Linked DNA regions of Homo sapiens: all the other regions are linked to region 1. Evidence: fine-mapped expression QTL. A gene starts in region 1. Each other region holds a variant in brackets. All regions are shown on one strand. Distances are between the middles of the regions. Region 1 holds the start of ERCC6L2-AS1 (ERCC6L2 antisense RNA 1). Region 2 overlaps ERCC6L2 (ERCC excision repair 6 like 2). Region 3 has its middle 88 kb from the start of ERCC6L2. Region 4 overlaps ERCC6L2 (ERCC excision repair 6 like 2).

The links. PIP is the estimated chance that this variant, and not a neighbour inherited with it, causes the effect.
Region 2: its variant is the best candidate, but not a certain one, in a credible set for the expression of ERCC6L2-AS1 in monocytes (Quach 2016, PIP 0.62).
Region 3: its variant is the best candidate, but not a certain one, in a credible set for the expression of ERCC6L2-AS1 in aorta (GTEx, PIP 0.67).
Region 4: its variant is the best candidate, but not a certain one, in a credible set for the expression of ERCC6L2-AS1 in whole blood (INTERVAL, PIP 0.87).

The regions. Positions count from the first base shown.
Region 1 is chr9:95,871,243-95,879,351 of GRCh38, reverse strand. ERCC6L2-AS1 (ERCC6L2 antisense RNA 1) reads left to right here and starts at 3,375. Exons shown (of 3, transcript NR_023390.1): 1 at 3,375-3,487. It overlaps ERCC6L2 (ERCC excision repair 6 like 2), which reads right to left and starts at 3,661. Exons shown (of 19, transcript NM_020207.7): 1 at 3,268-3,661. The coding sequence starts at 3,313. RefSeq lists enhancers at 3,451-3,510, 3,571-3,800, 2,932-3,806, 3,941-4,040, 4,081-4,130 and 1 more.
Region 2 is chr9:95,945,678-95,953,786 of GRCh38, reverse strand. The region is part of intron 12 of ERCC6L2 (ERCC excision repair 6 like 2); the gene reads right to left. Among named protein-coding and RNA genes, the nearest start is that of LINC00092, 72 kb to the left of the region's middle. The variant TC/C (reference allele first, on the strand shown) is at 4,995.
Region 3 is chr9:95,783,481-95,791,589 of GRCh38, reverse strand. No RefSeq gene overlaps it. Among named protein-coding and RNA genes, the nearest start is that of ERCC6L2, 88 kb to the left of the region's middle. The variant A/G (reference allele first, on the strand shown) is at 3,973.
Region 4 is chr9:95,903,161-95,911,269 of GRCh38, reverse strand. It overlaps ERCC6L2 (ERCC excision repair 6 like 2), which reads right to left. Exons shown (of 19, transcript NM_020207.7): 4 at 3,999-4,192. It also overlaps the pseudogene RNA5SP289. Among named protein-coding and RNA genes, the nearest start is that of ERCC6L2-AS1, 31 kb to the right of the region's middle. The variant T/C (reference allele first, on the strand shown) is at 3,292.

The DNA of each region.
Region 1 (8,109 bases):
TTCACCAAATATTATACCACACAATGGGTATAAAATGAAGAAAACTAATGTCAAAAATGATGGTGACTAATAGTCTTCCTGCATCTTATTAACTGGCATCATCTCAGAGAAATGCAAATCAAAGCCACAATGAGATACCATCTCACACCAGTTAGAATGGCAATCATTAAAAAGTCAGGAAACAACAGGTGCTGGAGAGGATGTGGAGAAATAGGAACACTTTTACACTGTTGGTGGGACTGTAAACTAGTTCAACCATTGTGGAAGTCAGTGTGGCAATTCCTCAGGGATCTAGAACTAGAAATACCATTTGACCCAGCCATCCCATTACTGGGTATATACCCAAAGGACTATAAATCATGCTGCTATAAAGACACATGCACACGTATGTTTATTGCGGCACTATTCACAATAGCAGACTTGGAACCAACCCAAATGTCCAACAATGATAGACTGGATTAAGAAAATGTGGCACATATACACCATGGAATACTATGCAGCCATAAAAAATGATGAGTTCATGTCCTTTGTAGGGACATGGATGAAACTGGAAATCATCATTCTCAGTAAACTATCGCAAGAACAAAAAACCAAACACCGCAGATTCTCACTCATAGGTGGGAATTGAACAATGAGAACACATGGACACAGGAAGGGGAACATCACACTCTGGGGACTGTTGTGGGGTGGGGGGAAGGGGGGAGGGATAGCTTTAGGAGATATACCTAATGCTAAATGACAAGTTAATGGGTGCAGCACACCAGCATGGCACATGTATACATATGTAACTAACCTGCACATTGTGCACACGTACCCTAAAACTTAAAGTATAATAAAAAAAAAAGCTGGCATTTAAAAAAAAACAAAAAACTGGCATCATCATCTAACCAACTTTTCAAGGTAGAAAACCATTAGTCAGCCCTTAAACCTCATTTAATATTACTCCTTACATCCAATCCATCAGAATATCCTGGTTCTACTTCAAAAATGAATCACTTTCCTCCATGCCACTATCTCTCTAAAGCAAAGGCTGGCAAACATTTTCTCTAGAGTCAGTTATTAGCTATTTGTTACTTTAGATTTTGTAGGCCATACAGTCTCTTGCCCTTGTAATGCAAAAGCAACCAGACAATACATAAACAAATGGGCACAGTTGTGTTCCAATAAAACTTTATTTACAAAAAAAAGTGTCAGACCAGTTTTAGCCCACAGGCAGTAGTTTGCAGACCTCTGTCTTAAAGCATGCCACCATCAACTTTCCCTAAATTATGCCTAACCAGTCTCTCTGCTCCCAGTCCACCTATTTAGCGTAGGGTACCCATTATTCTCTATCTCATCATTTTATTGCCTCTGTAGCACTTATCATAACATTTAATTATCATGTCCACTGGTTTTTTGTCTTTTCCTTCCAGTAGAGAGTAATTTCCTTTCCAAGAAAAGTTTGTACTGTTATAAATTTTATCCCCAGGACCAACACAGAGTCACACAGCAGACATTCAGTGAACATGCGAATTTATTACACATTCTTTTTTTTTTCTTTTTTTTTTTAGACAAGAGTGTCTCTGTCGCCCAGTCTGGAGTGTCATGGCACAATTATAGCTCACTGTAAACTCCAACTCCTGAGCTCAGCCATCCTCCCGCCTCAGCCTCCTGAGTAGCTGGGACTACAGGTGTGCACCACCATGCCTGGCTAAATTTTTTATTTTTAGTAGAGACAGGGTCTCGCTTATGTTGTCCAGGCTGGCCTCAAACTATCCTCCCGCCTAAGCTTCCCCAAAGTACTGGGATTACAGGTGTGAGCCATGCGCCTGGCCTATTACAAATTATCAATCTCACAAATCCTTGATATCTTGCGAGAAAACTAAAAAGTACACCAACATATACATAACTGTAAAAACTGCATTGGAAGAAGAGTGCTATGAGAAGGGAGTATTGAGAAATGTAATTTAAAAGGGAAAGGGGTCTAAGAACTGTATCTCAGATAAGTGTACAGCATGTGCAAAAAAAAAAAAGCCTTAAGGGAATCACACAACTTATTGGAGTATTTTGGGTTTGAGTTCGGATAATTTCTAGGACGAAATAAATTCAGTTGAGTTAGAAATGGAATCTCTCAGTATCCAAACTACAGAACAACTGCTTAAATTGTTAAGATTTCCTGTTGGATTTAACAGGGAAATGGGTTAAGTGTCCTAAAATTTAATGAGTCGAAATCATTTGTTTTGGTTTAAACTAATTACCAACTCAACTCATTCTGGTGATAGGGTCTCTCTCTCCCTCTTTCACTCCAAAGGCCTCCTCAAGCATTCCTCAAGGGTGTTCCCACCTCGGGGCCCTGGAGCTTTCTGCTCCTTCCACCAATTTCCCTAAATACCAAGAGTGACTAGATTTATCAAAAGGAATGAGCCTCCCAGTCACAATATCCACTCGGCAGCTTCATCTATTTTTAGCTGCCAGTCTCCTATAGGTATTTATATGTTTGGTCCCTGAATTACAGCGTCATCAATTCCTAGACCTCAGAATTCAGGCTTGTAACTTGCCCTCTCTGAACTTTAGCTCTGAATTCATCTATTTAATGAGATCGATATCTTCCTCAAAGGAAAGCAAGTAAACAATCAGCATATTGCTGGGCTCAGGAAAATCACTCAATACCTGGTAGCTTTTGTTATACAGCACAATTATTAATGAAAACTACTCATTTGGGTGCCAGAAGGCATCCCAGGTGACTTGTGGTAGATAATCACACCTTCTTTAAACCTCCTATTTAAGGCAGAATATAATGCCCTGACTCAATAGGCAATAAAACTCAACTGAACTAAATATCTCAACCTTCATTTATCTACTTACAACAAACTTCTGCCATTCACTAACAACTGGGGCATACAAGAATAAAGAATGAAAATAACATTTACTGAGTGCTTAATATGGGCCACACGCGGGGTCACATAAATACTTTGCGTATTCCCCACGTCATTTAATAATCGCAAGAACCTAGTAATGAACCCAGTTTTACAGATGAGGAGCCTGCCCAAAGTTGCTCAGCAAGTAACTGTCAGAGGCAGCACTAGATCCCAGGGGCTGACTCCCGAGTCCAGGTTCTCAACACTGAATCGGAGATTTGGTTCCAGGCCTGGAGGGGTTCACAATCTGCAGCTGTCACTGAAGAGGATCTACAGGGCAAAACCCCAACCCGAAGGGCACCGGCAAGAACTGGTCCAACGCGACGCAGTACACAGGCCTCTGCGTAAGGGGCGAGCGCGGAGCTGGTACCTTTGCCTGAGGTTTCCGCGCGGGGCTGTGGCGCCGACGGATCCATCCGGCCAGGGGGAGGGGCCGAGCCCGGCTGCATGTAACACCCGGAAGGCGGCGGAGGACAGCAAGGTGGCTGGCCGGCAGGCCAATGGCGGCCAACGCCACTTCCGGCCGCCCTCCGAGCATCGCTCTTCGGCAACCCGAAGCCACAGGATGGAGGAGGGGGATCCCAGCAAAGGTAGCGACTAAGGGGACCCAAGCAGAACGGGAGGGCGACGTCCGGAGCGGCGGCAGAGCCAGGGGACGCTGTGTGAGGCTGGCAAAGCGGTGTTCACCTAGTTCTCTCGGGCTCCGCCGCCGCCGGAGGAGGACAGGAGGCCGGCAAGGCGACCCCCAAATCTTCCTAGGCTCTGACTTCCGTCTCCTAACCCCCGCAAATTCCAACCCGGTCTTGGAAAATCCCGCGAGAACGGGCTCCCGAATTGTCATTGGGATCTCGCGAGAACGAAATCTTCCTTTCTGTGGGCGGAGCAATCTTCCCGATGTCTCTTCCCTCTGAGGCCAGTAGCAGGAAGGGCCTCGGGAGTTGCGAGTGTCGCGAGGTTTGAGGTCGCTCGGTGGGCCGGGCGCTGTGCGAAGCTAGAAATAACTGGGGGCATGGAGAATGCGGTGGCTGTAAAGGGCCGCTGAGGCGGTGGAGGCCTGGCAGAGAGCGTCCCCGCGGTCGCGGCTTCTGGCTTCTCTGTGGAGCTTGGTTCTTCCGTGGTGGTGCAGCACCCCAGGAACTTCAGGAACCAGTCCTTCCTTGGAGAGCTCCCCGGGACAGCCACGGGGGCCAAGTGAAACTAGCGCGTTTTCTTGGATCCTACACTTTATAGTGAGTCATAAATACTTTAAATACAAAGCCAACAACATTTGCTGCAAATAAACGTAAAAATACTGTTAAAGTGTAAAGTGTTTTCCTCCGTACCATCTGACGTTTCTGGCGGTTCGTTGAACGCGAGAGAACGCTGAGCCGTCTGCACTGAGCCCGGGAGCATCTTCAGGGCAGCGCCGCCCACGCGCGAGGTGAATGAAGGACACGGCCTCTTGACACTCCCAGGCAGCACAGATAGACGGATCCGTAAGTGGCTCCCGCGCATGTTAAAATTTGTATACTGTAAGGTATTTCATGGATTGAGTGAAATACCTGACAGGGCCTGTATCCGTTCCCTATTGCCACAATAACCAAAAACCACAAACTTTGTAGCTTGAAACAGCACAAATTTATCATCTGACAGACAATGCATTTATTATCTCACGGTTCTGTAGATCAGAAGTGCTACCTGGGTGTCACCCGGGCTGCACTCCTTTCTGGTGACTCCACAGGACAATCCTTAGCTTGCCTTTGCCAGCTTCTGTCCACATTCCTTGGCTTTGGTCCCTTCCTCCATCTTCAAAGCCAGTGATATGCCATCTCTCTGAACCTTCCATCCTCAAGTCTACCGCTGATTGCAGCTGGAAAAGATTCTGAGGGCTCACCTGAGTAATCCAGGATCATCTTCCCATTTCCAGGTCTCTGCCCTTGATCACATCAGCAGAATCCTTTTGCCATGTAAGCTAATATATTCACGAATTCCGGAAATTAGGAGATAAACATCTTTGGGGGATCATTATTCTGCCTACAGTAGTGTCTTAAGAAAACAATATGGCTGTTTGCAAATAGATCTCAATTCTATGGCAGATACTAAAAACTAGTAGTATGTGTTCATAAAATGCTTCATTTAAAATATGACTTGTTTGCTTACCAGCAGGCAATAACTTTAAGCCTAAGTGAAACATCTAACTCAGCCATCTATGTGTGAGTTGTTGGCCAGATCACTTCTCCGTGTTTTATTGTACTCACCTATCACCATTACAGTGAAGCTAATAATAGTAAACTACCTAAAAATGGTAATTGTAAAAAATTAGATAATTAAGTAAAACTCCTAAAACAGTAGCTGGTCATAGTAAGGAATATATGTGTTGTTATTACTATTATTATCAATGGAATGCATCCACTTGAAAGTTGCATTCTACATAGCCATTATGTCAGTTTAATATTTTGGCTAATAGGCCGGGCGCGGTTGGCTCATGCCTGTAATCCCAGCACTCTGGGAGGCCAAGGTGAGCGGATCATGAGGTCAAGAGATCAAGACCATCCTGGCCAATATGGTGAAACCCCGTCTCTAATAAAAATACAAAAATTAGCTGGGCGTAGTGGCACATGCCTGTAGTCCCAGCTACTCAGGAGGCTGAGGCAGGAGAATCGCTTGAACCCGGGAGGTCTATAGAGGTTGCAGTGAGCCGAGTTTGCGCCACCGCACTCTAATCTGGCGACACAGCGAAAAACACTACTAATTATAATTGTAATTCTTGATTCTGACATGCACCCTGATATTGGAAATCTTAAAATCTAGAAAAATCTGCTGCTTGTTATTGATGGATTATATCTCTTTTCACATTGTCTCTAAAATCAAAATGGCAAATTGAAATTTTAATCAAGCTTCTTTTTTTCCCCTACAACTACCAGGGAAGAAGTTTGATTTTTTTCCCCTCTCTGAAATGACTAGTTGTGTAATTTTGTCTTATTTTTCCAGAGGTCCATTGAGTTAAGATGTAGCTCTTGACAGAGCAGACCTCTTAATAGAAGTGATAAGCAAATTCAGAAATAAATTTTGATTTAAATGGGAGGTATCATCTGGTTGAAGGAATACCCTTGTGACTAACAAAAGAGGAGGATACCTCATTTTCTTTTTTTTTTTTTTTTTTTTGAGACGGAGTCTCGCTCTGTCGCCCAGGCTGGAGTGCAGTGGCGGGATCTCGGCTCACTGCAAGCTCCGCCTCCCGGGTTCACGCCATTCTCCTGCCTCAGCCTCCCAAGTAGCTGGGACTACAGGCGCCCGCCACTACGCCCGGCTAATTTTTTGTATTTTTAGTAGAGACGGGGTTTCACCGTTTTAGCCGGGATGGTCTCGATCTCCTGACCTCGTGATCCGCCCGCCTCGGCCTCCCAAAGTGCTGGGATTACAGGCGTGAGCCACCGCGCCCGGCCCTCATTTTCTGAGTGTTTATTATTTAACCTCACTGCTGTACTTACAGTGTATACTGAAGCAGAAATAATCATGACATGAAAATATGTCCTAGTGAACTAGTTGCCTCATAAAGTTAGACATTCTCAAATATTCCTTCCCCCAGTAGCTTTTGTCTTTGCATTGACATCCTTGTCTAGGTGCTGATATTGTGAACATCTAACGCTGTCAGACCAGTCACTTCAAAGTTAAACTGAATATCTTGTAAAATATTAAGGAATTCCTGTAGTTAATATGTGTGATGTTGGATAAATCACATGAATGAACTGAATCACATACAAAACTTTTGGCAAAGGAGGATCTAGCAAAAATTAAGCCAATTAAAACTACAAAAGAGAAAAAAATAACACAGATGGTGATAACACAGGCATTTCAAAACAGGCTCATGGAAGGATGATTAAACCCACCAATAATTTGCCAAAAAATAGTCTCTCTTTATCTTCACACTGCAAAAGTCAAATATATATCTGTATGTGGTTGACAGATCTCCAGAATTGTGAGTTAATCTAGCAAAAAGGCTCCAGAAAAAAATAGATATGAAACTCTAAGACAACACAAGAAATTAAGTCTTTTGAGTTTTAGTTAGATGATTTTAGGTTGCAGCATTTCTCCCTTCATACGTCGTTCCAGCCAATAAGGAAGCAAAGATGAGTGAAGGCAAGAGAAAGAAGATAAAATAGACCTGTCCTTCCTTGCCACAAATAACCTAAATCTTAAAGTTTAAAACTCAACGTTGCACAACAGTGTGAACATACTTAACACTATTAAACCGTACACTTAAAAATGGTTAAGAAGGTACATTTTATATAATATGTTCTTTCTTATCACAGTTTAAAAAGCAAAACACAACAAAAAAGCTCCGGCCAAAGAAAGGAAAATTTGAGGCTTGAATGAGGTATAGTGAAAGATATATAGAGTCAGTGTTAGAAGTATATCATGGTCCCATATAATGAATATCATTACACCTTGAATATTCACCAACACCATTTTTACTTCATAGACTCAATAAATAGACTCAAATAATAGAACATTTAATACCTCATGTCAGATAAGTATAAAAATCCTGCAACAAAACACCAAGAAATACTGGTTGAAACATGTTTATAAAAACTCTCAAAATATAAAAGCGAATGCTTATACACTGTTGATGGGAATGTAAATTAGTACAACCTCTATGGAAAACAGTATGGAGATTTCTCAAAGAACTAAAAGTAGAATTACCATTTGATGCACGAATCCCACTACTGAGTACCCAAAGGAAAATAAATCATTATATTGAAAAGACACCCACACTTGTATGTTACCACAGTAAAGTTCACAATAACAACGTCATGGAATCGATCTAAGTGTCTATCAAGAGATGACTGGATAAAGAAAATGTGGTATATAAACACCATGGAATATATTGCAGCCATAAAAAAAAAAAGAATAAAATCAGGTCTTTTGCAGCAACATGGATGGAGCTGGAGGCCATTATCCTAAGTGAAATGACTCAGAAACAGAAAATCAAATACCACGTGTTTTCACTTAAAAGTGGGCGCTAACTAATAGATACATATGGACATGCAGAAGGAAATAATAGACACAGAGGACTCCAAAAGTGGGTAGGATGGGAGAGAGGTGAGGGTTGAAAAATTATCTGTTGGGAACAACTTTCACTCTGAGTGACAGGTACACTAGAAGTGCAAACCTCACCATTATGCAATATACCCATGTAACAAACCTGTACTGTACCCTCTGAATCTATAAA
Region 2 (8,109 bases), 74 kb before region 1:
AATTAGTTACAATTTATATTATGTTCTTATTTTTATCTTAATAATGTAATAATGTGTATAATTCTATTTTCTTTACTTTGTTCCTTTTCTAGTTTTCTAAATTATTCTTTTACTTTTGGCCTTTCTTTTTTAATAAATGAATTTAAAAATTGAAATTAGCACCAGAATTTAAATATTGATCCACAGTAATTTCATTGTTTTTTTTTTTTTTTGAGACAGAGTCTCACTCTGTCTCCCAGGCTGGAGTGCAATGGCTCAATCTAGGCTCACTGCAAGCTCCGCCTCCTGGTTCACACCATTCTCCTGCCTCAGCCTCCCAAGTAGCTGGGACTACAGGTGCCCACCACCACGCCCAGCTATTTTTTTGTATTTTTAGTAGAGACAGGGTTTCACCGTGTTAGCTAGGATGGTCTTGACCTCCTGATCTCATGATCCGCCTGCCTCGGCCTCCCAAAGTGCTGGGATTACAGGCGTGAGCCACCACAACCGGCCTCATTGTTGTTTCTAAATAGCAAATTTTTCTCTCTTGATTTCCTCTTATTGTGGCAAAATATACAAAACAAAAAATTTAATCATTTTAAGCATTTTTAAGTGTACAGTTAAGTGGCATTAGGTATATCCACACTGTTATGCAACTATAACACCTATATAGCTACAGGCACTTTCCAAACTGAAACTCTGTACTCATTAAACAATAACTCCCCATTCTCCAGTCCCCCAGCTACTAGCAACTACCATTCTCTTTTCTGTCTTTGTGAATTTGATGACTCTAGGTACAACATGAAATCATACAATCTTTGTCCTTTTCTGGCAAAAACAGGTATCCATTCTTCGTAGCTGATATTACAGGAAAAACAATTCAATCATGACACCACTGAGTACGATGTTAGCTCTGGGTTTTTCATAAATGACCTTATATGTTGAAGTAGTTTCCTTTTTTTTTTTTATTGAGACGGAGTCACTCTGTTGCCCAGGCTGGAGCACAGTGTTGCAATCTCAGCAAACTGCAACCTTCGTCTCCCAGGCTTAAGTGATTCTCGTGCCTTGGCCACCCAAGCAAGCAGCTGGAACTACAGGCATGTACCACCATGCTGGCTAATTTTTATATTTTTTTTTGTAGAGATGTGGTTTCACCATGTTGGTCAGGCAGGCCTTGAACTCCTGACCTCAAGAGGCACGAGCCAACGTGCCTGGCTTGTTTCCTTTTATTTTTAATGTGTTGTTTTTGTCATCTTTAAAAAGATGTTGAATTTTGTCAAATGCTTTTTCTGCATCAATGAAATGATTATGTGTCTTTTTTCCTTCATTCGTTAATGTGGCATATTACACTGATTTTTGTGGGATGTTGAACTGTTTTTGAATTCCAGGAATAAATCCTACTCTGTGTATCATCCTTTCAATATGCTGCTGAAATTCAGTTTGCTGGCATTTTACTGAGTATTTTTGCATTAACATTCATAAAGATTATTGGTCTGTAGTTTTCTTTCTTGTAGAGTCTTTGATTTTGGTATTGGGGTAATGCTGGCTTTATAGAATTAATTGGAATGTGTTTCTTCCTCTTCAGTTTTTTGGAAGCATTTGAGAAGGATTGGTGCAAATTCTTTTTTTTTTTTTTTTTTTAAGATGGAGTCTCACTCTGTTGCCAGGCTGGAGTGCAATGGCTTGATCTCGGCTCACTGCAACCTCCAACTCCCTCGTTTAAGCTATTCTCCTGCCTCAGCCTCCCGAGTAGCTGGGATTACAGGCACACGCCACCACGCCCAGCTAATTTTTGTATTTTTAGTAGAGACGGGGTTTCAGTGTGTTGGCCAGGATGGTCTTGAACTCCTGAACTCGTGATCCGCCTGCCTTGACCTCCTAAAATGCTGGGATTACAGGTGTGAGCCACCGTGCCTGGCTGGATTGGTGCAAATTCTTTAAATGCTTGGTAGAATTAATCAGCAAAGCCTTAAGGTCCTGGGCTTTACTTTATTGGGAGGTTTTTGATTACTGATTCAATCTCCTTACACAGTTATAGTTATATTCAGGTTTCTATGTCTTCATGACATTCTTCCTAGGTTGTGTATTTCTAGCAATTCATCCATTTCACGTAGACTATTCAATTTGTTGGTATACAAATGTTCACAGTACTCTCTTGAACTCCTTTTTATTTCTGTAAAATCAGTAGCAATGTCCCCTTTCATTTTTGATGTTAATTATTTGAGTCTTCTTTCTCTTAGTCAATCTAGCTAAAGATTTATCCACCATTTTCTTGATCTTTTCAAACAACCAACTCTTGGTTTCATTGATTGCCTCTGTCGTTTTTCTATTCTTTGTTTTACTTATCTCTGTTCTAATATTTGTTATTTCCTTCCTCTGGCTAGCTCTGGGGGTTTTTCCTTTTCCTAGTTCCTTAAGGTGGAAAGTTAATTGTTGATTTAGACCTTTATTCTTTTTTAATGTAAGCATTTACAGCTATAAATTTCCCTCTTAGCATTACTTTTGCTGCATCCTGTAAGTTGTGGTGTGTGTTTTCATTTGTTTCAAGCTATTTTCTAACTTCCCTTGTGAATTCTTCTTCAACCCTTTTGTTAAGTGTGTGTTGTTTAACTTCTACATATTTGTGAATTTTTCAATTTTTCTTCCGCTGTTGATTTCTAGTTTCATTGTACTGTGACTGGAAAAAAATGAATGATTTCAATCTTTTAAAATGTATTAAAAACTTGTTTTGTGGCCTAACACATGATTTATCCTGGAGAGTGTTCATTGTGTACTTAAGAAAAGTATGTATTCTGCTGTCGTTGGAAGGAAAATTCTATATATCTGTTAGGTCCAATTTGTCTATATTGCTGTTCAAATCCTCTCCTTACTTATTGATCTTCTGTCTGAATGTTTTACCTATTATGAAAGTCAGGTGTTGAAGTCTCCCATTATTATTGCAGAGCTATTTCTCCCTTCAATTCTGTCAATGTTTGCTTCATACAATTTGGGGCTCTATTGTTTGTTGAATTTATGTATATAATTGTTAAATCTTGGTGAATCCACTTTTTACCATCAGATAATGTCTTTCTTCTAACAGTTGTCGACTTGAAGTCTATTTTGTCTAACATTAATACAACCATTCCTGTTCTCTTTTGGTTACTATTTGCATGAAATATCTTTTTCCATGCTTTTATTTTCAACCTGTGTATATTCTTGGACCTAAAGTGAGTCTCTTATGGATAGCATATATTTGGACACTGTTTTTTAAATCTGTTCTGCCAATCTACATCTTTTAATTATGGAATTTGATCCATTTACATTTGAAATAATTAAGAACAGGGAAGAACTCATTTTTCCCACTTTATTTATTTTCTATATGTCTTATAACTATTTTGCCCCTAAATTCCTCCATTACTGCCTTCCTTTGTGTTTAATTGATGTTTTTTAGTGACATATTTTTATTCCTTTCTCATTTCCTTTTACATATACTTTAGATATTTTTGTTGTGGTTACCACAGGGATTACATATAATATCCTAAAGTTATAACAACCTTAAATCAATTGATTTTACATTGATATCAATGTACTTGTCAACATAGATTTATAATTATTTTATGCATGTGTCTTTTAAATCCTGTAGAAAATAAAAAAGCAGAGTTATAAGCCAAAATTACGATACTGGTATTTATATTTGTCCATGATACTTACCTTAACTGGAGATCTTTATCTTTTTGTATGACTTTGAGTTACTGTCTAGTGTACTTTCATTTCATCTTGAAGTTCTCCCTTTAGGATTTTTTTTTTTTTTTTTGAGACGGAGTCTCACCCTGTCTCCCAGGCTGGAGTGTAGTGGCACAATCTCGGCATCTCGGCTCACTGCAAGCTCCGTCTCCCAGGTTCAAGCAATTCTCTGCCTCAGCCTCCCAAGTAGCTGGGATTATAGGCGCCTGCCACCATGCCTGGCTAATTTTTGTATTTTTAGTAGAGACGGGGTTTCACCATCTTGACCAGACTGGTCTTGAACTCCTGACCTCATGATCCACCCATCTTGGCCTCCCAAAGTGCTGGGATTACAGGCGTGAGCCACTGCACCAGGGATAGGATTCCTTACAGGGCTGGTCTAGTGGTAATGAACTCCCTCAAGCTTTTGTCTGTCTGCAAATATCTTAACCCTCATTTTTGAAGGGCAGTTTTGCCCAACATAAAATTCTCGGTAAACACTTTTTCTTTGTTTCTCAGTTGACAGTTTGTTTGTTTTTTTTTCCCCCAATACATTAAATATATTATCCCACTGCCTTCTGGATTGCAAAGTTTCTACTGACAAATCCACTTGATAATCTTAATGGAAATTCCTTGTACATGACATGTTGCTTTTCTCTTGCTGCTTTCAAGATGCTCTCTTTGTGGACAGTTTGATTATAATGTGCCACAGTGTGGATCTCACTGGGTTTATACTATCTGGACTTGGTTGATCTTCTTGTATTTGTATATCCATATTTTCCCTCAAATTTGGAGAGCTTTTCATTATTTCTTAATCTACCCTTTTGTCCTTTTCCCTTTCTTCTGGGCCTCCATAACGTACATATTGGGTCCATTTGATAGTGTCCTATATGTTCACTTCCCCTTTTTGTTTTGCTCCTCAGATTAAATAATTTTAAATAACCTATCTTCAAGTTTGCAGATTTTTTCTCCCTATTTTGGTCTGCTGTTGAACTCCTCTAGTGAATTTTTCAATTCCAAAATTGAATTTCGTGTCCAGAATTTGTTTGGTTCTCTCTCTTTTTTTCTTTTTTTAATTTCTATCTCTTTGTTGATACTCTCATCTTGCTCATATATCCTTTTCCTCACTAGTTCTTTCTCTGTGTTTTACTTTCACTCTTGGAGTATTTAAGACACTTGTTGTAAAGTCTTTGTCTAGTAGCTCCAATGCCTGTTTTGCTTCAGGGACAGTTAGTTTCTAGAGATTTATTTTGTTACTCTGAATGAGCTGTATTTTCATTTTCTTTCTTTTCTTTTCTTTTTTTTTTTTTTTT[TC/C]TAATGTCTTGTGGTCTTTTCTTGAAAACTACCATTTGGAAAGACAGCCAACTCCCCAAGTCTTTGCAAACTGGTAAGGAAGACCTTCACTAATTAGCAGGGTGTGTCTTGAGCCTTGGGAACAACATGGGGTGAAGGCTAAAAGTCTTCTCAGGTCATTTCTGGGTATACATCCTGCCTGGGTATGCTGCCATCTTGGCTAACTGCAGCCTCCACCTCCCGGGTTCAAACGATTCTCAGCCTCCTGAGTAGCTGGGACCACAGGCACACGCCACCACACCTGGCTAATTTTAGTAATTTTAGTAGAGATGGGGTTTGACCATGTTGGCCAGGCTGGTCTCAAACTCCTGACCTCAAGTGATCTACCCGCCCTGGCCTCCCAAAATGTTGGGATTACAGGCATGAGCCACTGTGCCTGACCTCATTAAAGTTTTATCATGAGATTGCAACAATTTAGTCACATCATCAGGCTTTGTTTCTAATTCTAGTTCTCTATTTCCACCACATCTGGAATTACTTCCTCTACTAAAGTCGAACTCCTCAAAGTCATCCATGAGGGTTGGAATCAACTTATTCCAAACTCCTGTTTGATATTTTGACCTCTTCTCATGAATCACAAATGTTCTTAAATGGTATCTAGAATAGTGAATCCTTTCCAGAAGGTTTTTAACAGACTTTGACCAGATCCATCAGAGAAATCACTATATATGACAGCTATAGCCTTACAAAATGTGTTTCTTAAATAATAAGAGTTCAAAGTCAAAAGTACAACTTGATCCATGGGCTACAGAATGGATGTTGTGTTACTGCATAAACAACATTAATCTCCTTGTATATCTCCATCAGAACACTTGGGTGACTAGGGGCATTGTCAGTAAGCAGTTAATATTTGGAAAGAAATCTTTTTTTTTCTGAGCAGTAGGTCTCAACAGTGGGATTAAAATATTCAGTAAACCATCCTGTAAAGAGATATGCTGTTATCCAGGCTTTGTTGTTCCATTTTACAAAGCACAGGCAGAGTAGAGTTAGCATAACTTTTAAAGGCCCTAAGATTTTCGGAATGGTAAATGAGCACTGGCTTTAACTTAAAGTCACCAGCTCCATTAGTCTCTAACAAGAGAGTCAGCCTATCTTTTGAAGCCAGGTATTAACTCTCCTCTTTATTGACTACAGTCCTCAATGACATCTTCTTCCAATATAAGGTTGTTTTGTTCTCATTGAAAGTCTGTTGTTTAATGTAGGTACCTTCAACAATGATCTTAGCTAGATCTTCTGGATAACTTGCTGCAGCTTTTCTACATCAACACTTGCTGCTTCACCTTGCACTTTTTTGTTATGGAGGTGGCTGCTTTCCTTAAACATCATGAACCAATCCCTGCAGCTTCAAACTTTTCTTCTGCTACTTCCTTGTGTCTCTCTGCCTTCAAAGAACTGAAGTGTGTTAGAGACTTGCTCTGGATTAGGCTGTGGTTTAATGGAATGCTGTGGCTGGTTTGATCTTTGATCCAGACCACTAAAACTTTCTTCGTATCAGCAATAAGGCTGTTTGGTGCTCTTGTCATTCATGTGTTCACTGGAGTAGCACTTTTAATTTCCTTCAAGAACTTTTCCTTTGCATTCACAACTTGGCCAACTGCTAGCTTTTGGCCCATCTTGGCTTTCAACATGCCCTCCTCACTAAGCTTAATCATTTTTAGCTTTCGATGTAAAGTGAGAGACATGCAACTCTTCCTTTCACTTGACCACTTAAAGGCCACTGCAGAGTTACTAATTGGCCTAATTTAAATACTGTGTCTCAGGGAAGAGGGAGGCCCAAGGGAGGGAATGAGACAGGGGAATGGCCAGTAAGCAGAGCAGTCAGAACACACACATCTACCAATTAAGTTCATCTTTTTATAGGGGCATGGTTCATGGTGTCCTGAAACAAATACAATAGTAACTTCAAAGATCAGTGATCACAGATCACCATCACAGATGTGATAATGAAAATCTGAAATAATGTGAGAACTACATTCTCACAGAGACACAAGTGAGCATATGCCACGGAAAAATGGTGCTGGAAGACTTGCTTGACTCAACATCTCTACAAACCTTCAATTTGTAAACAAGGCAATTATCTGTGAAGCACAATAAAGTGAAGTGCAATAAAATGAGATGTATCTGTATACACAATTATTAAATTATGGTAGATAACTTTTATTCAAGTAATTTATATATTTATTTAGCCTAGTGGATTTATTATTATTATTTAATTTTATTTTTTTGAGATGGAGTCTCGCTCTGTCACCCAGGCTGGAATGCAGTGGCCCAATCTCAGCTCACTGCAAGTTCCGCCTCCCAGGTTCACGCCATTCTCCTGCCTCAGCCTCCCAAGTAGCTGGGACTACAAGCGCCTGCCATCACGCTTGGCTAATTTTTGATATTTTTACTAGAGACGGGGTTTCACCGTGTTAGCCAGGATGGTCTCGATCACCTGACCTCGTGATCCGCCCACGTTGGCCTCCCAAAGTGCTGGGATTACAGGTGTGAGCCACTGCACCCGGCCAATTTATTATTTTTTAAGAGAGGAATATGGAGTTTCCCATTATAGTTGTGGATTTGTCTGTTTCTCATCATATATAAGAGTTTTGGCTTTGTTATGTAGTGACTATTACAACTTCCTAGTGGACTGTGGCCCTCTTTGTTTTGCTTAATGCCTTTTGTCTTGAATTCTATTAATAATTTGATATTAGCATTGCCATCCATTCTTAATTTTTGTTACCATCTCCCTGATTTGATTTTTTTATCTTATTTTCAACTTCCTGTGTCTTTTTTATTTACATATATGTTTCATAATAAGCATAAACCTGAGTCTAATTTTTCCTTTCTGCCAGCCCCACTTTTCTCCTTCTTTCTAAAAAAAGTTTCAACATATTCATATTTATGTTTGGATTTAGTTCTGACACTTCATTGGTCATGCTTTCTGAGTTTCCTCCATCTTCCCAACACAACTATATATTTCCTATCATGTACTAAAATAATTACATTTTCTTGGTACTCTTATTTCTTTTGGAAGTTTTACACCTGTTGCGGGAAGTCAGGGACCCTGAACGGAGGGACTGGCTGAAGCCATGG
Region 3 (8,109 bases), 88 kb after region 1:
TTGAGCCCAAAGTGACAAGTTACTCTAAAGGAAAGTAGGGGGGATGGACACAGGAGAGGCAATCAACATTATCCATAGCTAACAGTCTGCAGGATTAACCTTGGTTAACATCTGAATAAACATCCCTTCTTTTCCTGGGATTGTGTGTGTGCTTCTGGGCGTGTAATAGTACTGTATTTGCTCTCGTAATTTGGAGTTTTCCCCCTCAGCAATATATTGTGTCAGGCAGAATAAAGCTGTGAAGAAATTAAACAATACAAATAGAAATAAATACATTATGGAATTCTGCCATGCCATAAACAATCTTCTACAATATCATTTTAATGAGTACAGATATTCCATTTTTAAGAATATGGCATAATTTATTTACCAAAAAGGAATTAAAAATAAATATTTCCAAGTCTGAGATGAAAATTTTTATTTTAATTCTATGCACTGAAAAGATATTATAAAGTTAAGGTCTTACTTTCTTTGAAGGTAAGTAATAAGGAAGGAATCTTGTATTGACATTTATTTTAACAACTTATGTTTTAAATTAAAACATGACCATTGAAGCTGATGCTGTTGGACCATAGACCAAACTTTAAGAATCTAGGCAGGTGCGGCCAGTCATGACTATAGTCTCAGCACTTTGGGAGGCTGAGACAGGAGAATTGCTTGAGGCTAGGAGTTCAAGACCAGCCTGGAAATCATATAGTGATACCCCATCTCTACAAAAAAATTGAAAGCCGAGAATGCTGGCATGAACCTGTAGTTTCAGCTACTTGGAAGGCTGAGGTTGAAGGATTGCTTGAGGCAAGGAGTTCAAGACCATCCTGAGAAACATGGTGAGACCCCATCTCTACAAAAAAATAAAAAGTTAGCCAGGCATGGTGGTGTGCACCTGTAGTTCCAGCCACTTGGGAGGGTGAGATGGGAGGATTGCTTGAGCCCAAGAGTTCGAGGCTACGGTGAGCTATGATCATGCTACTGCATTCCAGCCTGGGTGACAGAGCAAATTCCATCTCAAAAGTAAATAGATAAATAAATAAATAGCAAGGATCTGCAGCAGTGCTGTTCAGTAGAACTTTCTGTGCTGATGGGAATGTTCTATAATCTGGACTGTCCAGTATGGTAGCACACGTGGCTACTGAACACTTGAAATGTGGCTACTGCATCTGAGGATCTGGCTGGGTTTTTTTTTCATTTTAATTAATTCAAATTTAAATAGTTACAACATGACTGACTAGTGACTACCATATTGCATAGCACAAAATCAGAGTGTTTCACAATCAAAAATATTCTCCCTCTTGCAAATCAAAATCACAATAAGATATCCACCTCACACCTGTTAGATTACCAAAAAGGCAAAAGATAAGAAGTGCTGGTGAGGATGTGGAGAAAAGGAAACCCTTATACATAAGGAATGCAAATGGGTACAGCCATTATGGCAAAAGGTATGGAATTTTCCCACAAAATTGAAAATTAGATCACATTTTAATCCAGCAATCCTACTTCTTTTATTTATCCAAAGGAAATGAGATCAGTATTTCAAAGAGGTACCTCCACTCCCATCTTCATGGCAGCATTATTCACCATAGCCAAGATATGAAATCGACTTTTGTGTCCAACAATTTGGATGAATGTATAAAGAAAATGTGATACATACACAACAGAATATTATTCAGCCTTTAAAAAGAAGGAAATCCTGGCTGGGCCGGGTGGCTCACGCCTGTAATCCCAGCACTTTGGGAGGCCGAGGTGGGCGAATCATTTAAGGTCAGGGGTTCGAGGCCAGTCTGGCCAGCATGGTGAAACCCTATCTCTACTAAAAATTCAAAAAAAAAAAAATTTGCTGGGCATGGTGGTGGGCGCCTGTAATCCCAGCTACTGGGAGGCTGAGGCAGGAGAATCGCTTGAACCCAGGAGGCGGAGGTTGCAGTGAGCAGAGATCGTGCCACTGCACTCCAGCCTGGGCAACTGAGCGAGACTGTGACAATATGGATGAATCAGAGGACACGGAGCTAAGTGAAATAAGCCAGATATAGAAAGACAAATTCTGCATGATCTCACTTACTTGTGGAATCCAGAAAAGTGGAGCTCATGGAAACAGAATAGAATGGTGGTTGCCAGGGGCTGGAGGAGGGAGAAATGGGAGATGCTCGTCAAAGGATACAAAACAAAGTTTCAGTGATGCAAGGTCAATAACTTCTGAAGGTCTAATGTACAGCAATGTGAATATAATAACAATACGGTATTGTATACTTGAAATTTGCCAAGAGGGTAGATCTTGTGTTCTCACCACAAAAAAAAGAAAAAAATGGTAACAATGTGAGGTGATAGATATATTAATTAGCTTGATTGTGATTTCCCACAATGTATGTGTATATCAAAACATCAAGTTGTGCAAGTTAAATATAAAAAATAAAGTAAAATAAAATCAGGCCAAATAAAAGATATTATTGTTAATTTAAAAATGTAGATTCTTCCTCGTTCTGAAAGGTATAGGTTTTCAAGTACTTCCAAAAGAGTAGAGGAAAAAGGAGAGAAGGGGCCAGAGAGAAATGAAGGTCTATTTGCCTGCACTGCATATGATAATATGCAGTATATCTCTAAGCAGAGATGCCGGCTGAGCTCTGCACGGACAGTGACAGGACTCAACCTCACCACCTGTGCCAAGTGGATCAAAGATGCTTCTTCCCACGAGCAGGGAGACTGTGCCAGCAGCCAGTGAAAAAAATGTTCTTTCTCATCAAATGAGGATGCTATAAAGTGCTGACCTGAATTGGGCTTTCCCCTTTGTTCTGTAAAGGGATGGAAGCCATTGAAAATGTATTTCCAGCTGAACTGTGGCTCATTACGCATTGACCTTGCATGGGGACCTTTTGTTCAACAGCAGAGGCAAAGTGGGCATGCCAGCCAGAGCGTAACTGTCCACCTATCTCTCTATGAAAAGTCTTTTTTTTCAGTCCTTTTTGGCTCTAGCTAACTCATGGCAGCAGTTGAAGCTTGGCAGAACTCTACCCACTGAATGAAGATCTGGTGCTGGAATCTCAGACAGGGCATGCTGTATTTACTCCACGCACACTGAAAGCCAAAAACTGTCTTCAGTTGGTCCCGTGATTTTTTTTTTAACCCCTTTTGGTTCTCTATTAGAATCACTTCTCCAGGAATTATATAAACAATATTCTGTTCATGAGTATTTTGTGATCTAAAGATCTAGGCCCTTGTCAGGAGGATTCCCTGGTGTCACTAACACCACAAAGATCTGAAACCTGTCTTCACTTTACATCTTTTAAGTGTGTCATAGCCAGCTCGACTCTCCCCAGGACTTCGGCCATCCTTTGCCAAGAGCAAGGGGAGGAGCCGGGATCTAAAGGCATCGAATGTCCACGGGAGGGTTGAGGAATGTCGTAGAGTTCTGATTGAGTGTCAACACCCAAGACATTCCAGAAGTGATATATCTGCAGGACTTAACATTTTTACTTGAAGCATTCTCTACAATTGAAAGACTGGTTCTACTCTAGAAGATGCCTTACGTTAAGTGAGGCACTAATTGGGTGCCAGCTCTTACTTTTAGGTGCTAGCAATGAACTAAGCCGACAAGACTTCCTGTCCTAGTCTGGGCGTGAGCCACCGCGTGAGCTCTTTGGGAGGCTGAGGAGGGCAGATCACGAGGTCAGGAGTTCAAGACCAGCCTGGCCAACATGATAAAACCCTGTCTCTACTAAAAATACAAAAATTAGCTGGGTGTGGTGGCGGGCGCCTGTAATCCCAGCTACTCTGTCTGCTGAGGAGGGAGAATCATTTGAACCCAGGAGGCAGAGTTGATAGTGAGCCCAGATCCCGCCACTGCACTACAGCCGGGCCACAGAGCAAGACTCCATCTCAAAAAAAACAAAAAACAAAAAACACCTTCCTGTCCTAACATCATCTTTCTGAAAACAGTTTCAGAATGTTGATGTTTATTTTTGCCAAAGGAAAAGAGTTAAC[A/G]TTTCCTATGAGAACTGAATGAGAACTGAAAAACAACGCTAACATTTATTATCATTTTTGTGTGTCGGAAGCTATAGAAAGTGATGTTACATAAATTATCTCAGCTTAGCCTGTAACAATACCATGTATTAGATACTCTATCATCTTCAGTTTACAGATGAGGCATAATAATATTGGGGAGATGATAAACCAGTGGACTCATGGCTTCAGCAGTGGGGGCAAGCCTGACGGACTGAGAGCAGAGAAGACCACTCCTCCGCACCCTAAGGAAGTAAAACATGCAACGTCAGAGCTCTGTCCTGACAAGAAAAGAAAGCCAGTCACAATGAAGGTGTGGAACTTAACCATCTTTGCTTGAGGAGAGGTTTTGGTTCTCTTCTGAGGGCTGTTAACAGGAAAGTAAACCACACTGTTTTCCACTGAAAATCATTTTGTGGCAGGGTTTAGGGCACAGAGCAGCTTCAGGATAAAGAGAGTGGAGGGGGAAGAAAGACCCTATTATTGGTGACCACAGTGTTCCTGGAGGCCAGTCTGCCTCTAGACTTCTCATGATGTAAGATAATACATCTTCCCATTGCTTCATACAGTATGAGTTGAAGTTTTGTATTGTTACTTGAAACTCCAAAATCCTAACTGCCGGCAACCCTGTCTTGGGGATGGCAAGCCACGCATCCTGGCCAGGGGCCCGATGGAAGACACTACTGAGGTTCAGAAGGGCCTGGGGCATCGGGGAGAAATGACATGAGGCCAAGTCAAGGAGGAGAACAGCCACAAACCAGGAGAACAAACCACAGGTTACCTGGAGGAACACCAGGCCCGGGAGCGGAGGAGCTTAGGGGCCAGATGACACTACCCAAAGCAGATGGCAGCAACCAGAATCCCAGGGCACCTCCCAGCCTGAGGCTTCTGCCCTCGGTCACAAGGTCACCGCCACCCCTTCCCCATTTCCACAGACCCAGGTGCCCTCTTGGGAACAGCAAGCTGAGGAAGAGGAAACATGAAAGACTGGGTTGCCCTCCCCACTCCCCTCCCTGGAAGACTGTTTAAACACGAAGTAACCTAAACTCCGAAAGCTGGCAAATTAAAGGAGTTCCCAACCACCTCCCTCCTCTTCCTGAAACTCATCCTTTCCAGCCACCCAGCAAGGTGAGGTTTGCAGGGAAGATTAGATACCTTTAGAAAATAAAGAGGCGATACCTTTTTCTGCCCCGCTGAAATAGCATATGTAAATTTAAGCTCCACAATATAAGGCCTACGGAAGTCTCAAGCGATGTCACTCTAAACCCCTTACTGGTCATCGCAGTTCTATTCCACAGGGGGTGACACATATCTGGCCTACCTGCTGCCTCTTTCCCCTATTGAGACCCATGGCGGGGATCACTGATTGATCATCACACTTTCCTCCTCTGAGCCCGCATAAGGCCTCAGAAGCCTTCTCATCACATGCTGCGTGAAACCACTACCAAGTGATCAGAGCTGAGAAATACATGGAAACTATTTGCAAACAGCAATTTGACGAATGCCAGGAATCAAGATCCTTGCCTTCATTCTTATTAGAAGGTAGTACTGGTGTAGCAGAGGCTCCAAGGCTCATTCTGCAGGATACCAACGCTCCTCCAATGCAGAGGGCAAAGCCTGTGGCACTTAGCTGTGCTTAAGGCAATCTGCATTTTCATACTGACTCCTTTTAGCTCAGCAACAGGCAAGCCTTTTATTCCCCTTTCCTCCCACCTTGTCCTGAGGCATCATAAAGCACACGGGCTCTCCTTCCAGGCTTTCAACTGGTTCCAGAACCCTAAGTAACACCACTGTTTTTAAGACACCTTGCAGCAGCCAAAGTTTAGCCTTCCTGGCGTGGGCTTTCCTTAGCTCTCGGTGTGGTTGAACATCTGACAACCATTTGGTGGAATAAGTGAAGGGATTAGAACAAGAAACACAACCTTTTGTTGACTTTTCTGCTGATCCATTGGAAATTCAGTTAGGCTCCCCAAAGCATGCCGATTCTTACTTAAATATTAAAAATGCAATTTCTGCAGAAGCCGGTTCCCACCTTGGAGGTCATAAAGGGCTGTCAACACAGGATCCCTAAAGGGAGTCCTCTCTCACTCTTGTCTTTGCCCAGCCACCTTTTAAAATTATACCAGAGTTCTTGAGAAGCCCAGATGGATGGCCTCAGCCAATGAGGTCATCTGTTTACTGCCCAAAACCGCCAGGCTGGAGGCCGCATGAGGCTGCTGTGTCACAGCATGGGAAGCCACCTTGCCCAAAGATGCCTTTGCAGGAACACCTCACTCCAAGGGAGTCAGATTCTACCCTCTCTATTGAAATCTGCAGTCCTTCTACAACCCACATGGTCAGGTTCTTGAGCATATTAATCTGAAAATCTTTAGACATCTCCTGGCCCTTCCATAACTCTGAAAGCTACACACAAACCTAGACAAGCTCTGGGAGAATTTCCCAGCCAAATGGGCATGTCCCCAAGGTAGAAGCCTCCTGAGATAGTCAAGGGGGTGGCTTTGGGGTCAGATGGCCAAGTTTGAATCTTATAGCTCCGTCACTTCTAGCTGTGTGTGACCTTGGACGGGTTTCTCCATCTTTTTGAGCCTCAGTGTCTATATCTCTAAGGAGCAGCATAGTAAAACTGGCTACTTGGATTTTTAGGATAACTGAGCAAAGCCAGGGGAATGAGTCTCTGTTCATGATTCTTGCATCCCTGTTCTCTCACCCTCCGCTCATACACACAGGTCAGGACATCTTCCAAAAAGAAAACCCGGTATCATTTTGTTGTCGTTCCTTTCTGAAGGGGAACAGGGTTGCTGTGAGGAGGAAGAGGATCTGTTTGCAGGAAACCCGGAGACACAGTCTCAACCTCGTGGGACTGCTGGGCACGCCGCTAATATATGAAGCCCCGCTTAAGTCCGGAGCTCCCGAGAGTGGCGATGCTGGAGCTGTTGAAGGACCCCGCTGGAGGAGGGGGCCTCCCCGTCCCCGCTCGGCCACGTGGACCCTGGGGCGGCAGGGCTCGTCGTGGCCAGGGAAGCCTGAACCCGGGGGTGCTATCGAGTTATGCTGCTGCATAATGAGGTTTTCACACAGGCCTCCTAACCGGCGGGAGCCAGCTGAACCGGTGCCCTCCGGCCGCGGGAGAGGCGGGGGTGGCATGACCGCCTCCCAACCCCTCCACCCACGACCCCGCGTGGGCAGCGCAGCTGCGCTTCCCCCAGGCCAGTGCGGTGACAGTGCCCCCCGCTGGGTGCCCCCAGCTTCCAGGACCCTCGTGGCCCCCAATAAGGAAGGGCGGGAAAGGGTGGGGACGACTGCAAAGCGAGCTTTAAATGCGTGTGTATAATCCTAGTTGACCCCTAAGAAGATGTTCAGTCAGTGCTGCTGTCCTCTTCTTTAAACCTTGGGAGGGCAGAGACTTAGTTTAGTGGCAAGCAGGGCAGGTGGGTGGCAGCTGCTGGGACCCAAGTCCAGGGGCATGGAGCACATGGTCCTGGGCGCAGATACTGGACGCCAAGAGCTGGCTGGGAAGGAAGAGGGGATGTGGGCCCGCCCTTCATTTTCCAGACGATGAAACAAGGCACGATTGCTGTATTCGCGGGGGAGTGGGCCTGGGAGCCCACTGTCCTGCCTCTCTCCCGTCCCCTTCCCACCAGCCTTTCCCAAACTGTGCTCCACGGAACACACGCTACTGGGGAGCCAGGGTGAGAGGAGTTCTGTAAATATGGACTCTGATCAAGAGGCTGAAACTGGGAAGGAAAGGCCGCCTCCCACAGGCTGCGTGCCATCCCCAACCACCGGTGGCTCAATTCCTGGGACCTGCGCTGTGGGTAACAGGAAGCCCAGAGGCGGAGGCGTGAGCTCAGCTCTGGGCTCTGCAGTGTCAGGGCCACTCGGACAGCCTCCCGTCTCTGTTCTCAGCGCCCCCACCTCCCCGTCACAGGTGGGTGGCCACCGCTCCAACCGCTCCAGGTGTCCTGTTCCCTCACCCTATCTCACGCAAAGGCAGCAGACTCTGGGGCAGCTCTCCCTGCGTTTCTCTCTGTATTTCCCCAAACTCCCAAAGCCCCCCTCCCCTTAAGTCTCACTGACCAGAAGGGCTGAGTCACATGCTCACCCTGTACTGATGACTGG
Region 4 (8,109 bases), 32 kb before region 1:
AGAATTTATTACATTTATCTAATTGCAAAACATCTTTTGGGGTGGTACAGTATATTGGTTAAAAACCTAAGGTTTGGCCAGGCATGGTGACTCCCACCTATAATCCCAGCACTTTGGGAGGCCGAGGTGGGAGGATCACTTGAGTCCAAAAGTTTGAGATCAACCTGGGCAACACAGGGAGACTTTGTCTCTACAAAAAACAAAAACATTTTCCAGGCATGGTGGCGCATGCCTGTAGTCCTAGTTACTTGGAAGGCTGAGGTGGGAGACTGAGGGTACAGTGAGCTGTGATAGCACCACTGCACTCCAGCCTGGGCAACAGAGCAAGGCTCTATCTCAAAAAGAAAACAAAACAAAACCTGAGGTCTGGCGTTAGATGGTCAAGGTTCAGTCCTCATGTCTGCCACTGACTTAGTTGTGAAGGCCTAGAAAAATTATTTAACCTCTCTATGCCTCAGATTAGTCTTCTGTCAGGATCCATGAAATAGTAACAGGCTAATTTATTAGCTTGTAAGTTTGATTTATAAAATTAAATCCCAGACCTGACAAAAGTGGTAGCTCCATATCCAATTTTACCAATAATTATATTCAAAGTGAATGGTCTAAATACCCAAATAAGAGGCAAAGATTATCCGAATGGATGAAAAAGCAATATTTGGAGACTCACTCCAAATATTAAGAACAGATATACTGCAATAAAAACAGGAAAAGCTATTTACATGCAGTAAGCATAAGACTCAGCATAAGACAGCAGCATTAGTCATACAGTCAAAAACTGGAAACAATTCAAATGTCCATCAACTGGTGAATGGACAAAATATGGGATAGCTATATAATAGTACCATCGGCAATAAAAAGGAACAAACTACTGAAATGTACCACAATATGGCTATGCTCATATCAGATAAAACATCAAGATAAGAGATATTATTAGAAATAAATAGGTATATTTTTTAAAGATAAAAGGATCAATTCATCAGGAAAAAATAACAATCATAAATGCATGTGCACCTCATAAAAGAGCTTCAAAATACTAAATTAAATGCTGACAGAGGTGAAAGGAGAAATAAACATATCTACAATTACAACTGAAGATTTCAACTCTCCTCTCTCAGATACTGTAAGCCAATCGAAAAGGAAATCAGCAAAGATAGAAAACACCTAAGCAACATCTTGGCCAATCTAGTCTTATTGATATTTATAAACACTACATCCAATAACTATAGAACATTGTTTTCCAAGTGCACATGGATCAGAAAAATGCAAATTACACTACAAGATACTACTACACATCTACTAAAACAGCTAAAACAAAAAGACTGACAATACCAAACGTTGCTGAGAATACGAAGCAACTGAACTCTCACACATTGCTAGCTGGAGTAAAACCACTGTGGAAAATGGTTTGGGAGTTTCTTCTAAAGCTAAACCTACAGTTAACCATATAATACAGTAATTCTACTCCAAGAGAAATGAAAACATATGTCCAAAAAAGGCTTACATACAAATATGCCTTGAAGTTTTATCTATAATAATCCAAAACTGGAAAAACCCAAAAATCCATCCTCAAATGAATGGGTAACAAAATGTGAATATTGATGAAATGGAATACAATGCAACATTAAGAAAGAACAATCACTGATACACTCCTCAACATGAATGAATCTCAAAAAACATGCTGAACAAAAGATGCGACACACACAAAAGGGTGCTTCCTGTATAATACCATTGACATGCTCCGTAATAGCTTAAACTCACCTATAAGTGGCAGAAATTAAAATCAGTAGTTGCCCAAGGTGAGGGTTGAGGAAAAGCCACTGTAAAGAGGTAAAAGAAAAGTCCTGGGATGATAAAAATAGTTTTTACCTTGTTTGGGATAGTGATTGCACTCATTTGTCAAAACTAGGAGTCAGTATACTACTGCCCATGGCCAAATCCAGCCCGTGGCCACTTTTGTATGGTCAGTAAGCTAAGAATAGTTTTTACATTTTAAAGGGTCATAAAAATAAAAAAGAAGAATATGCAACCGAGACTATATGTGGCCCAAAAGCCTAAAATATTTACTATCTGGCCCTTTACAGAAAAAGTTTACCAATCCCTGGTCAAGATTCATCAAATTGTATTCCTGAAATGGCATAATTATTCTACACAAATTAACTCTCATTAAAGTTGATTTTAATACAACTCTCCAGCTGGGCTTGAGGGGCTAGTTTTCACAAAGACTGATTTAATTCATCCTCTGTCATTTTCCAGATGGGCTAATTTACCCAAAGCCACATGGCTAATTAGTGATTTTTTTACTCTCTTTTTTGTGTGCTCATAAAATTTGAGACAACTATCAATTGTTCATCATTTTCATCCTATGCTAAATCATTTTAATGCTGATGTGAAAGTATCACCTTAAAAAAATTACCAATTTTCTAAACTTCGGTTGACTTTGGGGGAATATCATTAACTCCTTCATTAGCAGTAGTTCAAATTGAGTATAACTATAATGTCTAAACATTTTAAAGACTTACTAGATAACTGTTTCTAATGCCATGCTTTAATCTTCACCTAAAAGGTATAAATTGTATCCCTGTAGAGACAAATCTAGGCTACAAGCAGATGGAAACTAATGATTTTACCAAGGCCCAGCCTACTGCTGGAACAACTATGAAGACTTCAGACCTCACTACCATGGTCCCGTGACCACATTACTATAAAAGCCTTGTATTGGTTTGCTAGGGCTACCAAAATAAAATACCACACACTGGATGGCTTAAAACAACCAAAATTTATTTCCTCACAATCCTGGAAGCTCGAATTTCAAGAGCAAGGTGTCAGCAAATTTGGTTTCTCCTGAAGCCTCTCCCCTTGGCTTGCAGATGACTGCCTTCTTGCTGTGTCCTCACAAGTCCCTTCCTCTGTGGTGTGTGTGTGTCCTTGGTGTCTCTTTCTCTTCCTATAAGGATACCAGTCATACTGGACCCAGGCCCCACCCAATCAGCCTCGGTTTTAATCACCTCTTTAAAACTTAATCAAAGAGACCTGTCTCTAAACACAGTTACATTCTGAGGTGCTGGGGTTGAGACCTGAACATTTAAATTGTGGAATGGGGGTTGAGGAGAAGCGACACAATTCAGCACATAACAAGCCTCTTAATTGGTCCTTCTCCATTCAGCTTGGCTCTCCTTTATCTGCACACACAGAAGCTAAGGTATTTACAAAGTGCAAATCTGATCATTTTTATCCTATCGGTAATCTGCTGACAACACTGTAGGGGGCACTCTATTGCTCTCAGGATAAAGA[T/C]CAAAATCCTCAAAGTACCTTCCAATACTCTCTATAATCTTTTCCCTGCTTATCTCACTGGTGTTACCTCTTGGCCACTTCTCCCTCACACTCTATGCTACAGTGGGTGTGTGGGTGTGGGGGTGTGTGTGTGTGTGTGTGTGTGTGTGTGTAGTTTTTGCCCCTCTATATTCACAACAGACTCCCATAATTGAAATAATTCATGAAAATTACTGACCTAGTTCAGAGGCAGTGTCTGCATAAAAGGCTGTACATGAGATTTAGGACAAGTCTTATCATTCTTTAACAATCAGTGTTTGAAGAAGTATCCTGTATTCAATGTAAGAAATAGAATAAGAAGTTCTAGAAAACCTGATGCAGGTTTTTCCTTCTCAGAGAGTAAGTTATTATGAACTAAATATTTCAATAATTCTAAAATGAAATTAAATCAAGCAAAGGAATCATCATTATTCCTTTTTAAAAAATCACAATATAGGCTTGGCACGGTGGCTCACACCTATAATCCTAGCACTTTGGAAGGCTGAGGTGGGTGGATTGCCTGAGCTCAGGAGTTCGAGACCAGCCTGGGCAACGTGGCGAAACTCCGTCTTTACTAAAAACACAAAAGCAAGACTCTGTCTCAAAAAAAAAAAAAAAAAAACTCTTAATATAAAGGGATGTAAGTAGACTATTAATACAATCATTCCTATTCCTATTATTCCCATTACCTGTTAAGTTCATCCAGGCATAAGCGTAGTGTTTCATAAGTTGTTAGAGCAATTTCACATTTCCTCTGCTTTACACGAATTAATTCATTATCTTTTCTGTTTCCATGTAAAACAGTGACTCTGAAATATCCCCAGGTGTCCAATTCATCCTTCCAGTTGTAGAGGACAGAAAGAGGAGCAACTATTAAGAACATCTAAAACAAGAATAAAAAAATTTTGCTGTTTTTTAAAAACTGAAAAAGAATCCCAAAGTGAAATCCACAATATCAATATCAATAGTCCTCTTCCTTAATTTTGACATCTAGTTAGTAACAATAAATACAACTGAGTGATTAGCTATATCTGGACATTGAAGATTCTCAAAAAATAATTTGCTGTTTAATTAGCTTTTTATCAGGACAAGACAGACACCTAACCTTGCTCAAAGAAACACGTGTTTTTTATTTCCCCCTACCAAAAAGGCACTGAGAAATGAGAGAGAAGTAACTTTCCAAAAGAGAGAAAAGAATAAAATCTGGATCCCAGTAATAGCTTCAAAGGCCAAGTGGGTAATGTACATACACAAGCAGGCCACGTGTTCTTGAAATATATGGTCTCCTGGAGCTCTCTTTCCTTCTGCATTTTCCTAGCCCATTTCCGCTCCCCCTCTTTCAGATACTCTCAGTTAAAGAACTGGAAAATTCACTGGAAAATTGAAGCAATCAGAAGAAAACTTCCTGGATGAACTTCTCTCAGTATCCTATCAATAACCTATCTATATTCATTTCCATATATTTTGCCCTCCCACCTGTTGCCATGGGTACGCTGCTCATGTTCTTCTCCAAAAAAACCCCTCATACAGTGGCTCCCATTCCTTCTTGCCAACCTAAAGTCAATGCTGCAGAAACTGCCCCCAATCTCCCCTACCTGATTAACTTTTCCATTTTAATGAACCACATCACCTATGGACAAGCATGTTAGAATATTTCCCAGGGTTAAAAAAATCCGAAAAACAAAAATTTTTTAAAACTTCTTTTCCTTAACCCAACATCTATCTCTATTACCTCATTACTCTACTCTCCCTATAGCAAAGATCAAGAGTTATCAGTGCTTAACTCTCCTCCTGCTCTCTCTTGAAACTCAGGTAAATGGGACTTGTGCCCTAATAATGCCTACCAAATCAGTCCCTCTGAGGATTACCAACGTAACTCTCTGGTTATTCCTCACATTCATGTACCTTTCCTGTACTAACCCAGAATCCTGCTGTCATCAACCATTTTAACTTTTTAATGTTTTTATTTCTCCCTGTTACCACTATTCCTATCCTGTTAAGTTTAATAGGGTTACCAGTACGATTATTTTCTAAAGTTTTATACTTGATCTACTTGATAGAGATGAACCAATTAAACATACTGAAAAAATTCAGTTTAACCAAGAAATAATACAATACTGCTCTAAATTCTGCTCTGTTTTCTGTGAAACATTTAACCTAGGCCATTTGTCAACTCTAAAAAGTCAAATTTGTGACTGTGTTTTGGAAAGAGAAAGAAGAAAACGAAAGAAAATCAACATGCTGAACGTGAGAGTTCCTTTTTCCCAAGCCATCATCAAGCATATGTAAGTACTTCTTATACTTGATTCATCTCAAGTATGTCCGTCCTTTGGGTGAAGGTTAATCCTATGATTTCCATTTTTAACTTTCAAATATGAAATTAGGCCTCCAATTACTAAGTCCAATTACAGTGTCTCCCTTTGATTTTTTTGTATATTACGAGATGACAATGCTAGGTGCAAATTGCATCTGAGCAGTCTTAGTAGTTTTCCACTTGAGAGGCCATTCATCAAAGGTGCCAATGAATCTAAAGAGTCCTGGCATCAGCCCTAAGATTCCAGAAGATGTTTAAAAATTAAGGTGGCAACATAATTCTTGATATTTCTTACAAACATTGGTCTTCAAAATTATGAAAGGTGAAATAATGGTTCAAAAATTCATTTTGGTAGTGAAAGATGTCAGAGAACTGAGTTATGCTATTATGCAGAGTCCAGGGAAAGTACATAAGAACTTAGCATTTCCTACAATCCAATAAATAATATTTCATTTAATAAGTCTTTTTTAAGCAAATGATGCCAAAATAATAAAATGGAAAGCAGTGTCCAACTGCTAAGTCACTACACACAAAGCAACTCTGGGAGCTATTCCTCTAATCCAAGTACTAACCAGGTCCGACCCTGCTTAGCTTCCAAGATCAGACGAGATGTGGTGTGTTCAGAGTGGTATTGCTGTAGACATGGGGGAAGGGTGATAATTCTTATTCTGAAGCTAAAATACAATTTTATAAAACTGAATATAAAATTAACACAAATAAAATTAAAATTCATTTGCTTACGTATTATTAAAATTAACAGAAGCTAGGTTAAATAATGCAACTAGAGAATACTGAATTATTTATATCTTTCAATAAATCTTGCTCAATTATTAAGGAGTTTTCTATCAAATCTGATTCCTCAGGAACCACGGCATAGAAGAATGATGTAGTGTGGACTGTGATGAGATACTCAAAGATTAACGTGACAATTTTTGTGGCAGAAGTAGTAATAGTATTAATAATAACATAACAATTATTGAGCACTTACTGTGTGCCAAGGCCTTTAGAAGTAGTTTACAGAAATTAATTCAGGGACTTTACCCAGAAACACAGATGAGGAAACTGAGGTACAGAGATATTAAGCAACACACTCAAGGTCATACTGCTATTAAGTAGCAAAGTAAGTATTTGAACCCAGGTCTGCCTAATTCTAAAACTCTTAACTACCATGACATATCCTGTTAGCACCTTCAATCAAAAAGTCTACGTCCTTGAGATGTGTAACTTTATTTACCTTAACTTCAGTACTTCATATAGTACCTAGAAAATAGAAGGTATTCAATTGATGAATGAATACATGAAACCATACATGTCAATGCTAAGTTCGGAATAATAATATATGTTCAGAGGACAGTGAGATTACAGTAGAGTTGAAACAAAGGTTCCACGTGGAAAGAAGTGTGATATCAAAATGAAAAATAAATTATACCTTTACAGAAAAATTACGGAACATAAAATTGGAATCTTTGCTAGAAAACTCAAAGGTCTAAAAAAAGCCTTGTATTTATCGCCACAACCTTAACTCTCTCAAAAATACCTAACATAATTAATTTACACCCTACTGTGTGTATAGCTGATCATTTTCTCCTTCAGTATGCTGCAGTTATTTCATATACAGAAATTTCAGTTTAGAATCCACTGTAGTCAGGGGCTCTTCCAAGTCCTTTGTATAAAAACAGCCTAATTTTTGACAGAATATCAAGTTTTGGCATTAAATAAATTAATTACCTATGTTGGGTATTTTTGAGAGAGTTAAGATTGTAGAGATAAATACGAAAACTTTTTTTTTAGTACTTTGAGTTTTCTAGCAAAGATTCCAATTTTACATTCTGTAATTTTTCTGTAAAGGTATAATTTATTTTTCATTTTGATATCACACTTCTTCCCATGTGAAACCTTTGTTTCAACTCTACTGTCACTGTCCTCTGAACATACATTATTAGTCCTAACTTAGCACTGACATGTATGGCTTCAATTATTAATTCATTCATCAATTGAACACCTTCTATTTTCTAAGTACTATATGAAGTATTAAAGTTTGGCATTATGCCAAAACTTGATATTCTATCAAAACAGAAAGTTACAAACCAGATCAATAAATATCAACTCTTGCAATTAAAAAAGAGAAGTAAATAAGAAATATAAGAATGGAAATGACAAGCAAAGTTAACTATAAATTCAACACAACATCAACTAATATATCAATAGGTTTTGAGGAGAAATTTGAGAAAATTTATTTTTCATAAGTTGAGAAAACTTGAGGAGTAACTACCAAATAATAAATTACATTATAAAGCTAAAATAACTAAAACTGTTTAGCACTGGAAGAGAAATGAACAAATAATTAGGACAGAATAATACGTCTAGAAATAGAAATGAGTTTAATTTTACACCAAAGTGGCCCTTCAAATCACTGTGGAAAAGCAGGCTTACTCAACAAATGACATTAAGATAACTGGTTAACCAACTGAGGAAAATAAAATTGG